Linked DNA regions of Homo sapiens. The protein of the gene in region 3 purifies or fractionates together with the protein of the main gene of each other region. This does not show direct contact. Each region holds a gene or a part of one and is shown on either strand. Other genes may lie near its edges.

Region 1 (3,752 bases), on a different chromosome or scaffold from region 3:
CACATGCTAAGCCTTTAAGCATGAATTTCTAACCCATACCAAGGGGTCAGTCCCCTGTAGTCTAATCTTGATCCATGTTGAATGTATTGTTTTAAAAAATCCATAATTTGAAGGAAAACACCACAGCAATAACAACAGCAATAATAATGCCTTTAACAATGAAAATGAAAACAAGTTACTAGCTATCAGACACTATTCTAAGGGCCTTACATATAACTCATTTATTCCTCATAACAACAATGTGAAGTAGCTACTGTTATTTGCATCTTACAGCTCAGAAAACAAGCATGGTGAGATAAGGAAACTTTACTAAGGTCACATAACTAGTAAGTGGTGGAGCCAGCGTTGAAACTCAGGAAGTCTGTACACAACTGGGAGGGAAGGCTAATATTTGAAATGATAGACTCAACATTCAATATTTCAGTATCGATGAGCTCTAAGTTGATAGAGCTATGTGTAAAAACCCTGCATTTAATATTAAGAAATCATTGGCAGAAGAGTAAGAGAGGGCTTTGGTCAAGTAAGCTGAGTGCATAAGAAAACTCTGGCATTTGAGGTGTCCTTAGCTCCAGATGCTTTGGTAGGGCAGAGTGTATCCATGGAGGTACCATGAGCTACCATGGAGGTAGCTCAGAGAGGAAAGGGAACAGTAACAGAGGCCTGCTTGGTTTTTAAACAGTTTTGCAAAGAGTATTATTTACGTATTTATACTAAGTCTACACCAGTTTTGAGTATTTGCCTACTACAGTGTAAGCAAATGCTTACAGGAAATTAGCACACCTCTGAAAGATCTCTGCACCAAAGGAATAGAAAAGGTTGAAGAAATTATCTTAAATTCATATAGAGATTTTAATGACTTTAAATGGAATTATAATCAACTGTATTTTATCTTCTGTTATATATTCAAGTTGTATGGTTGTATATCACTTGTCCTTGTCCATTGTATTTGGGTTTCATGCTTCATGGTGTCACTTTTTTAAATAGAAAAAAATGTGAATAGTTAAAAATAAATTTTATTTGATATTTAGATAATGGTAAAAATTGAAATGATGATAAATGCTGTTTATTGCCTACTTGTGAAGGTGTCAATGTTACGTTGGTAGAGTATATATGGAATCATTTATATGATTTACAGTAAATGAAACAGAAGGTGAGGTACCACTTTCAGATGTAGTACAGTTGTCTGACTCAGATTTTAGAAATCTATTGATATTTTTAAAGCAAAACTTTTTTTAATGCTTTACATTTGAATGATGTTCTTTGTACTTGGATATTGATCCTATTTCTGATTCAGTTTTGAAAGGAATTAACATCAAGTGGACTTCATGTCACTTAACAGTGCTTTTTTGTATACATTTTTAAAGAAAATTAGTCATTTTACTTTGATTTTTGAGTTAGCAATTCACAAGCAGGTAATTAAACACTTTTAGAAGAAAAATATTGGTCTAATAATAATCTTAACTCATCTTTTTGACATAGTAAAGAAAAAGGAACTCTGCAGAAGCAAAATTTTTTAGTATGTGGCAAACAACTAAGCAACTAGATTTTTCTTGGCTTTCTTAGTATTCTTCCATAGCTTGTAATTCATTAAACATTCCTATTCAGCTTTCTATACTAATTTCATATATATATATATGTATTTTGCTTCATGAAAGCATTGCTGCTTTTCTTCTTCATCAGTAATTAGTAAACTTAGCTTCCTAACCCCTTATAACTTATGCCTTATTAACGATAGTGAACATACCAGTAAGCATTGAAATTAGTGTTACTCTGATATGTCAAACTCATTCTAGAAGTTATGCTTTTCCTTACCATTACTGTATTAGTGGACGTCCTGCAGCCTATCATTCTATTGTTCATTAAATACAGCTAATGAACCTTATTTAGAGTAATTGAAAGGGAATAATAGAAGATTTTAAGGGAATGACATTTTCTTCCAGGAGTGAACTTATAAAATATTGTTATTTGAAGGTTTTCTAGGGACTTCTTTTTAGTAAGTAAATTAGAATTAGCCCTTTCTTTATAAATTAATGCTGCTGAAATGCTTAAAATATACTTAACTTTTAAAAACATTATCTTTGATTTTATTTAAGTGTTTAATTGGCATTATCTGTGGAAGAAATGCTTTATTAACTGAGACACCACTGTGTTTCTGATATACTTATAAAAAAACTCATGAGGTTTTATTTTATTTTTCAGGTTTTGTAAATAGATATACAGGGAAATAATTAAATATAAAGAAGTAGACTATATTTAACATTAACTGGAATAGTTAACCAGTTCTATCTATACATTAGAATGTTCATCTTTTCAGACTAAGTTTACTGAAAAGATTCTTGCATTAGGTAAATTTTAGTAGATTGGACTAAGTTGAGGGAGTTAATCCCTTCTGAGCTTTTAGAATTCTAAAGCCATTGCATAGAAACTCTCTGGGAAAGACAAATGGTTAAGATATGTAGCCACAGGCTCCTGTTTGGATTTGTATTGACATCAAAAAGAAGATGATAATGATGGATCTTACATGTTTATTTGAAGGCTCTCAGAAAGAGGATACATTCTAGATTTATCCTTTATTTCAGAAGGTAGCATTAGCAAGTGGGAAGAGGAGAATGGTGAAGGAAGGCATAAGTGGGAGAAAGTGGAGAAGGTGACAGGTGGAAGGCAGAGGCAAACTGTCTTGGAAGCAGCTTTTAGCTCAAATTAAGATATCTTAAGGGGAGAATTACCCAACAAAAGAACAAACTACTTAATGCAGTCATGGGGTTTTACTTCTCTACAGTTACTTCTTTTTTAAATATAGGTTGAAGAAGGAAGTAAAAATATACGGCTAGGTTCACTAATTGGTTTGATAGTAGAAGAAGGAGAAGATTGGAAACATGTTGAAATTCCCAAAGACGTAGGTCCTCCACCACCAGTTTCAAAACCTTCAGAGCCTCGCCCCTCACCAGAACCACAGATTTCCATCCCTGTCAAGAAGGAACACATACCCGGGACACTACGGTGAGTATATATTTATTCAAAGGATGATGTAAAAAAAAAAAGTTATGGCAGTTCTTATGGAATTGTAATCATTATCATATTCGCACATCGTTGTACATCACGTAGGAAGTTGCTGTTCTCAGCACACTCAGACCTTAGAGTGTGTGTTTTTTTTTTTAACCATCATTGTTCATTCAGTAAATAAATAGTTACTGAATATCTGCTATGTTCCAGGTACTCTAAAAGCCCTGCTTGCACAATGGAAAACCAAACAGTATGTGTCCATGTTGAGGTTGAATTAGGTTTTAGAAGTCTAAAATGGTATTCAATATACCAAACTTGATACTCTGTTCCCATTTATGGAGTTCTAATTACTGTTACAGGAATTCCAAGCTCAAATGTCTATCTGATATAAAATAGAATTCATGTTTTAACATGCATTCGTTTTCAAACTAGTCTGCATTATGACTTTCCGGCACAGACTAGAGCTCAATTTTGTCTGTTCTGTAACAAAACAGATAACTTAATACACATCATTTCACTTTAGTTTTACATTGCTTTAATAGAAGAACTCTGTAAATTCTAACATTTCATTTATTTAGTATTCTATATAATTATACAACATTACTTTTTCTTTACGAGAAAAAGATCTTCATAAAGTAGACCTCTTCATTCTTAAACATTTTTTCCTTTAGTTTATCATTGTCAGAAAAGAATCCACAGTGCTTTTTTTAGGGGGGGGCGTGCGGAGGTGGGTGACGGAGTTTTGATCT
Region 2 (3,752 bases), on a different chromosome or scaffold from region 3:
AGAGGAGAAGCTCAACAGCTCAGGATAAACATTTTACCCTGATGTCTGGAAATTTCATTCTTTCTTTGAAAAATGTAGATGGATTTGGAAGGATAGCAATAAAAGTCAAAAAGTCATTATCAAGATTAATCAGTTTAATTGAAATGCTTCAACATTGTTTGATTTCAGATGTCTATTTTTAAGTTGAATTTAGGATATATAGGGTAACTGATGACCAAGAGGTCTATGGGAGTTTCACATTTTATTATTTATTATCTTAACTAGATCCTGTTGAGAAATTTTTTTTTTTAAAGGACATCTTCTGTGGGAACCCGTAGTACAGATATTTTCCAATTAGCATCTTTGTATGTTCTCTTCTGGCATGAGTCGGGTTTAGGCTTGACACACTGGGCTTTTAAGGGGAGCTCTATCTTTGCAGTCCAGGCTACGTGTGACAAGATTAAATTGGCACACTTTACTGTACAGCTCTTGTGTTCCTGGCAGCACTGGCCTGGCTGATACCTCTGAGAGAAGGCTCAGCTGTCACTCACTGACCCATTAACACTACTGTTCTATCCTGCAGTGTCATTTTTCTCATTCTTATGGAGATAATGCTCCCTGGAGATCTCCAATACCTGGAGGAATGAAAGAGAACAGCAGAGACAGGCTAACTATCAAAGAGGGAGCAAACAACACAGCAAGACCATGAATTCCAACAGTTGAATTTTCAATTGAGTGAAAAGATGAGGCCTATTATGATGGCTGGGTTCAGAAGGTGGGGAGACGATCAAGTTTTAAGAGGTATCTTAACTTTTTAACAAGCTATTTTCTCTTTTCTTCCTGAATATTAAAAGAAGTGCCCAAAATAACACCTGCAACTAGATATAGAGAAGGCAGCTGCTTTGAACATGTAATAGGGACATTTGGGTAAGAATTTATCATTTGCAAATAGGCAATGGATATAAAACAGAGCATGCATTAAGGTGAATGGCTTAATATTCTAAATAAAACAGGATCCCTAGTTAGGGTTGGCTTATTGGGGCACAAAATCGCCTTCCTGGTAAAAGCACAAAAAGAGAGAAATGATATGTGATCTTTGTATCCCTTGGTCTAAGGCTTCTCTTCTCTTGTGATTGAACGGTTTCCAGTGGCATAAGCAAACTCTGTTGCTCTCTTGTAGTCCAAACTGTGTATTGTTTGGTGGGTCACTTTATAAGAAGTAACACTTTCTAATGGTTACTACATAAAAAGGCACTATAAGAACATGTTTCTAGATTTCCTGGACTAAGGCTGGTCCAGTTTGATTGATATGAAAGCAAAATAAATAAATAAATAAATAAATACCACCTGAAAGTCTATGGAAACCTGCTGAAGACATTTTTATAGAAAACCAAAAAGAAAAAAAAGAGGAAATAAACAAAAGGAAGAGCAAAAGTGAAGTAGTCAGAAAATAGGGATAAAACTAGGTAAAAACAGAGATTCAGAATTATTAAACAGAGTAAGGAAAAGTGGAATGTCACAAACTACAAACTTTTTACCACAATCTGCACCTCAACCCTCTCTCCCTGCTTCCAATTTTCCCACACCAAGCAAAGTTTATTACTGGGTTTAAAGTGTTATCCTCAGGCCGAGGTTTGTATACATTTTCCCTCCCCACTTCAAGTGTCACAGGTGCTAGACGCCATCAGGATAAATGTGGCATATTATTTGAGAGTACTGACTTTTCTTTAAAAGGGGTTTTTGTTAACGTGCGTGTGCTTGTTTTGTTTTTAAAGTTAATTAAGCTACAAATAATTTACAGCTTTGTTGTTACCTTAAAATACATATGGCACATTATGGAGCAGGATAAATATTCATACCTATTTTAAAGATCAAAAACAAGACATTAAAGAAATATTGGTAGGAAGAAATACCTTTGGACTAACTCTCAGAACTCTCATGTGCCTTAGGGACTGAGTTTGTTCCTTTCTTCTATTTGATACGCTTGTCGGGAAAGCTTGAGATACAGTGCTCCAGGGTTTAACAGGGAAAAGGGACTCAGATTATTGAGGTTCAGCAATGACGGCGATTAGGATGCCCTGTAGTTTGCCCAAGTCCTCCAGAAAAGGAAATCACTTTTAGTCTTCATTTTACAGCTGGCAGGCACTGTACAAATCAGTCAGCTCAGGCTGCGTGGCCCATGTCCCAGTGCTGTGCAGGACCTGCCTCTATCACCCGTGTGCACTGCCCGGATGGTGCCAAGCGCATTGGAGCACCGGAAGGAGACGCGGAGCCGAGGCCAGGCCTTCCGGCGGTCGTTACGGGACGCCGCTGCCATCTACAGCACTCCGTGAAGAATATGCTGGCCGCCTTCATCTCCCGCGTGTTGAGGCGAGTTGCCCAGAAATCAGCTCGCAGAGTGCTGGTGGCATCCCGTAACTCCTCAAATGACGCTACATTTGAAATTAAGAAATGTGATCTTTATCTGTTGGAAGAGGGTCCCCCTGTCACTACAGTGCTCACTAGGGCGGAGGGGCTTAAATACTACAGGATGATGCTGACTGTTCGCCGCATGGAATTGAAGGCAGATCAGCTGTACAAACAGAAATTCATTCGCGGTTTCTGTCACCTGTGCGATGGTCAGGAAGCTTGTTGCGTGGGCCTTGAGGCCGGCATAAACCCCTCGGATCACGTCATTACATCCTATAGGGCTCATGGTGTGTGCTATACTCGGGGACTTTCTGTCCGATCCATTCTCGCAGAGCTGACGGGAAGAAGAGGAGGTTGTGCTAAAGGAAAAGGAGGATCGATGCATATGTATACCAAGAACTTCTATGGGGGCAATGGCATCGTCGGTGCACAGGGCCCCCTGGGCGCTGGCATTGCTCTGGCCTGTAAATATAAAGGAAACGATGAGATCTGTTTGACTTTATATGGGGATGGCGCTGCGAATCAGGGGCAGATAGCCGAAGCTTTCAATATGGCAGCTTTATGGAAATTACCTTGTGTTTTCATCTGTGAGAATAACCTATATGGAATGGGAACATCTACTGAGAGAGCAGCAGCCAGCCCTGATTACTACAAGAGGGGCAATTTTATCCCTGGGCTAAAGGTCGATGGAATGGATGTTCTGTGTGTTCGTGAGGCAACAAAATTTGCAGCTAACTACTGTAGATCTGGAAAGGGGCCCATACTGATGGAGCTGCAAACCTACCGTTATCATGGACACAGTATGAGTGATCCTGGAGTCAGTTATCGTACACGAGAAGAAATTCAGGAAGTAAGAAGTAAGAGGGATCCTATAATAATTCTCCAAGATAGAATGGTAAACAGCAAGCTCGCCACTGTGGAAGAATTAAAGGAAATTGGGGCTGAGGTGAGGAAAGAAATTGATGATGCTGCCCAGTTTGCTACCACTGATCCTGAGCCACATTTGGAAGAATTAGGCCATCACATCTACAGCAGTGATTCATCTTTTGAAGTTCGTGGTGCAAATCCATGGATCAAGTTTAAGTCCGTCAGTTAAAGGGAGGCTACGTGTGAATTTATCATCAGTCTCTCAATGGAATGTTCATGGTCAAATTTAAGAAACTGTGTTCTCAACTCAAGGAGGAATAAAACTCATAAAACAAAAGCCTTGTAAGCATTTATTAAAAGAGATTATTAAAAGAGATTGAAAGACATGCATTCAATAAAAGTGATATTATATTCAATTATACTGTATATTTTTGCATTAAAAGATACTATATAGGTAACAATTTAGTGTGAATATCTTAAAGATTATTTTGAACTTA
Region 3 (3,752 bases):
TATTACATGTGGTTTATTTCATTTGACTGTCACAAATGCCAGGGAGATAAATCAGGTATCTTAATCTGACATAAAAATAAGCGTGACGCAGACAGGCTAGGTGACCTTAGCCTTGTCTAAGCACATTTTACATTATATAGGGCTCTTTCATATTGTTCCCAACTTCTAGGACTTTGTCACCTTTTGGAAAAGCAGAAATAAAATTAGGCACATGAAAGTTTAAATAATCAAATCAACAGAATGGATTTTAAGTAGCATTTTGTGCAGTGGAAAAGGAAGAAGTGAAACAAGCGATTTGCAAGCTCAGAAAGATCAGCGCTTTGTTGCTTAGGCTGAGAAAATCTCCCTCTCCACAAACATCCAGCTTCTTCCTGCTCACTGACAACTGCCACCAATTATCGCTCCACTTCCAGGTAGCACCTGAAAGTCACTTTAGGAACCACAGGCCACTGGTCTTCTCTTTGTCTGCCCATGCACACCAACTGGATTACTTAGCTCTTCTGGTAAAGCTCCTGGTTAAATAAGTTGTTAGTATGTCTTTTTTAATGCTTTGATTTAATTTGAATGGAAAAGACATGGTAGTCTACATACTTCTACCAAGATGAAGATGACCAAGATGTTCTTGAAAATCCAAAAGTCTAGAAGACCACTGGATGTCTTTTTTTTTGAGATGGAGTCTTGCTCTGTCGCCCAGGCTGGAGTGCAGTGGCACGATCTCGGCTCACTGCAAGCTCCGCCTCCCAGGTTCATGCCATTCTCCTGCCCCAGCCTCCTGAGTAGCTGGGGCTACAGGGGCCCGCCACCACGCCCGGCTAATTTTTCGTACTTTTAGTAGAGCTGGGGTTTCACCACGTTAGCCAGGATGGTCTCGGTTTCCTGACCTCGTGATCCGCCCGCCTCGGCCTCCCAAAGTGCTGGGATTACAGGCGTGAGCCACCGCACCTGGCCGAGGTCTTTTACTGTGTATGTTACTTTTCTTTACATTCAGAGTAGAGATGCAACTATTTTATTAAGCAAAGAATTGGCTGCATAAACGTCCACTGAAGGCACAAAAGCTAAATAGCTACCCACCAATAATCTCATTCAGTGAGAAAACTAGTCCAATCAGAGACCCAAGGAGTGGCTTCCAGTCACATTTGTACCTTTCCTTAAAGAACATTCTTCCTGTCCTTTTAGTTACATATGTTTATGTTTACATATTGCCAAAAAAAAAAAAAAAGCCAAGGTTTGGTGGAAATGGCTAAAGTAAGCTGTACTTTATTCACTCATAATAGGAAATAACAATTTCATATACTGAGCCCTGAGTTCAAGTTCACTTTTTTTTTTTTTTGAGAGGGGGGTCTGGGTATGTTGCCTAGGCAGATCTTGAACTTTTGGGCTCACGTGATCCTCCCACCTCCGCCTGCAGGGTCGTTGGGACTATAGGTGCATGTCACCATGCCAGGCTCTCAAGTTCACTTGAGATAAAGAATACCCAACACTGTGTAAGCATAGACTCCTGTCCAAAAGTGGTGGTGAAGCGTGAAGGGGGCTGTCCTATGGTGGTGGTGTAGAGAAGGGGTATGAAAGAAAGTGCCAGTGACCTTACATTTGATCCTTTCCAATGGTAGTAGTGGGGTGGGGGGGTATGAAACAGAGTCAGTGACCTTGCAATTATCCTGTCCACTGGCATTGGGGAGGTAGGGGGTGTTATTGACCCTTGACCTCACAATGGATCCCGTCCAACGGTGGTGGTGGGGGGACATGAAATGCAATCAGTCACTTAATCTTGTGCGGGAAGGAGGGGAAAGGAACCACGAAAAAGAGAATCAGCGAACTAACAATCCAGTCCAAAGGTGTTCCAAAGGTGTTCTCTTGGGAGTCAGGCAGGGAGGTGGGGGTGGGGCTGGGCCACGAAACAGAGTCAGTCTAGTTAGGCTGTAAAATCTAAGTGTCAGGATGCAGCGAACGGCAAGTCCTCCTCCCGGAAAAGGCGCCTGCGGTTGAGAAGGGTCTTGAGCAGCGCGGAGGATCGGATTCCGGGCTCCTGGCCTCTTCCCGGTCCGCGGGCACCTCGGCTACCTTTCGGCAGCGGAGAACCCAGCCAGAGGCGGAGCTGAAAGCGGCTGCACTTGCTGGGCTGGGCTGAGTCCCATGAGCCAGGGAGGGGGGTCTCTGGCGCCGCGCCCGGACAAAACACAAACGTCACAGAGGCAGCGGCGGCCAATCAGTGGAGGGCGCGCGCGGCCGCGTGCCCCTCGCGCTCCTCGCCTCCCCTCGCGCGCCGCGTACGTGCAGCAACCGACTCCGCCCAGCGAGGCGGAGCCTAGGGAAGCCGCGGGCGGCCCGCCGCTGTCCTGGAGCTGCTGCTGCTGCTGCGGCGGCTGCACCGGCGGCGCCGAGGCCGAGATCGAGGCCGGGGTGCGCGCTTCGCAAACGTGCCCTATCCGTGCGGCTTGGCTGCGCCAGCCCTTGCGGCCACCCGGGCGTCTAGGCGGGTCTGTGCGCCGCCCGGGCGAGGATGCGGCTGTTCCGGTGGCTGCTGAAGCAGCCGGTGCCCAAGCAGATCGAGCGCTACTCGCGCTTTTCGCCGTCGCCGCTCTCCATCAAACAATTCCTGGACTTCGGTGAGTACGGGGCCAAGGGTCCCCATGGGCCCGGGGCCGCCGCCATTCGGGCTGCCACCCCGGATCTCCGCAGCTTCGGGGTAAAGTCTGTGGGAACCGCAGGCGGGGCTAGGGAATATCCGGGGGGCTCTCCTGGGGCTCGGATTTCGGGGCGCGGAGGGGCAGGGCCTGGCCCCCTCGCACCCAGCCTGGGACTTACCCGGAGACACAGAAACGGCGTCTCATTGCAGGACCCTCATCGCAGGCGAGACTCCCCAAACCTGCGGTCGTTAGCTTCAAATCTGCTTGACACAAACCTCACAGCCCTTAAAACTTCAGAACGAGATGTGGGTGGCTTTTTAATGTTTTTATTTTTAGAATTTTTTTTTTTTGGTTGGGTAAGAACTGTTTAGAAATACCTTGAGGTTGAATAAATTATGCAATGGCATTTTGTTCCTTTTCTGCTCTAAGGTGTTGCTGTGTGGCTGGAGTGGCAGGACTCGAACTGTTGTCTTCATCAGGTTATGTTAAATCAGTTAGAGGCCTGGCCTGCAGACGCCTTAGATGCTTGGGAAGAGCGGACGTCTGGGATCCTAGCATCAGAGCAGGGTCTAATACAACTCTGGCTTTAGTGCCAGCACCTTTCGTTTCTCTTCTCCATTGGTGTCCCACCCACATTCTCCCTGTCCGGTGGGCTGGTGGGCGGCTTTCACGGATTGAGGTGGGACCAAAGAAGATTCGGGTTCCCAGCCTGCCTCAGGCCTAGCTGAGATGGGAATAGATTCCACCACCTTCTGTTAACTGAATCATGTTTCCCCAGAAAACGAAGGAGCTGGTTGTGAAACACCTAAAAGTAAAACGCATGCATTGAGGTATCAGAATGGAACTCAGCATCCCTGGAGGAAAATCAAATCCAGCAGCAAAGATGTTCTAAGCTCTCCAGGGGAAATCGTAGGGTGTCTGTTCATTTAATGAATTTTATGTAAATGTCAAGGGTGTCAGTGATAGTGTCAGTTGGGCATAAAAACTAAAGTGCAGAGTAGGTAGAACATTTGAGGAAGACCTGATATGCAAAAAGTGATGTCCATACTTTTTTTTTTTTAAAAGCTAGGATAGGAAGAGAGGAATAGGTTAAAGTTGAGACCAAATTAAAATTTTAGAAGCCAA

The links.
Region 1: the proteins of PDK3 (region 3) and PDHX purify together in Homo sapiens (affinity purification with mass spectrometry; 2 studies listed by BioGRID and IntAct, with this or other methods). This does not show direct contact.
Region 2: the proteins of PDK3 (region 3) and PDHA2 purify together in Homo sapiens (affinity purification with mass spectrometry; 2 studies listed by BioGRID and IntAct, with this or other methods). This does not show direct contact.

What each region holds. Positions count from the first base shown.
Region 1 is NC_000011.10:34,954,584-34,958,335, forward strand, and holds part of PDHX (pyruvate dehydrogenase protein X component, mitochondrial isoform 1 precursor), read left to right. Parts: intron 1-2,800; coding exon 2,801-3,000; intron 3,001-3,752.
Region 2 is NC_000004.12:95,837,834-95,841,585, forward strand, and holds PDHA2 (pyruvate dehydrogenase E1 component subunit alpha, testis-specific form, mitochondrial precursor), read left to right. Parts: upstream 1-2,259; 5' UTR 2,260-2,317; coding exon 2,318-3,484; 3' UTR 3,485-3,631; downstream 3,632-3,752. UniProt on the Homo sapiens protein: The pyruvate dehydrogenase complex catalyzes the overall conversion of pyruvate to acetyl-CoA and CO(2), and thereby links the glycolytic pathway to the tricarboxylic cycle.
Region 3 is NC_000023.11:24,462,956-24,466,707, forward strand, and holds the start of PDK3 (pyruvate dehydrogenase kinase, isozyme 3 isoform 2 precursor), read left to right. Parts: upstream 1-2,330; 5' UTR 2,331-2,500; coding exon 2,501-2,606; intron 2,607-3,752. UniProt on the Homo sapiens protein: Inhibits pyruvate dehydrogenase activity by phosphorylation of the E1 subunit PDHA1, and thereby regulates glucose metabolism and aerobic respiration. Can also phosphorylate PDHA2.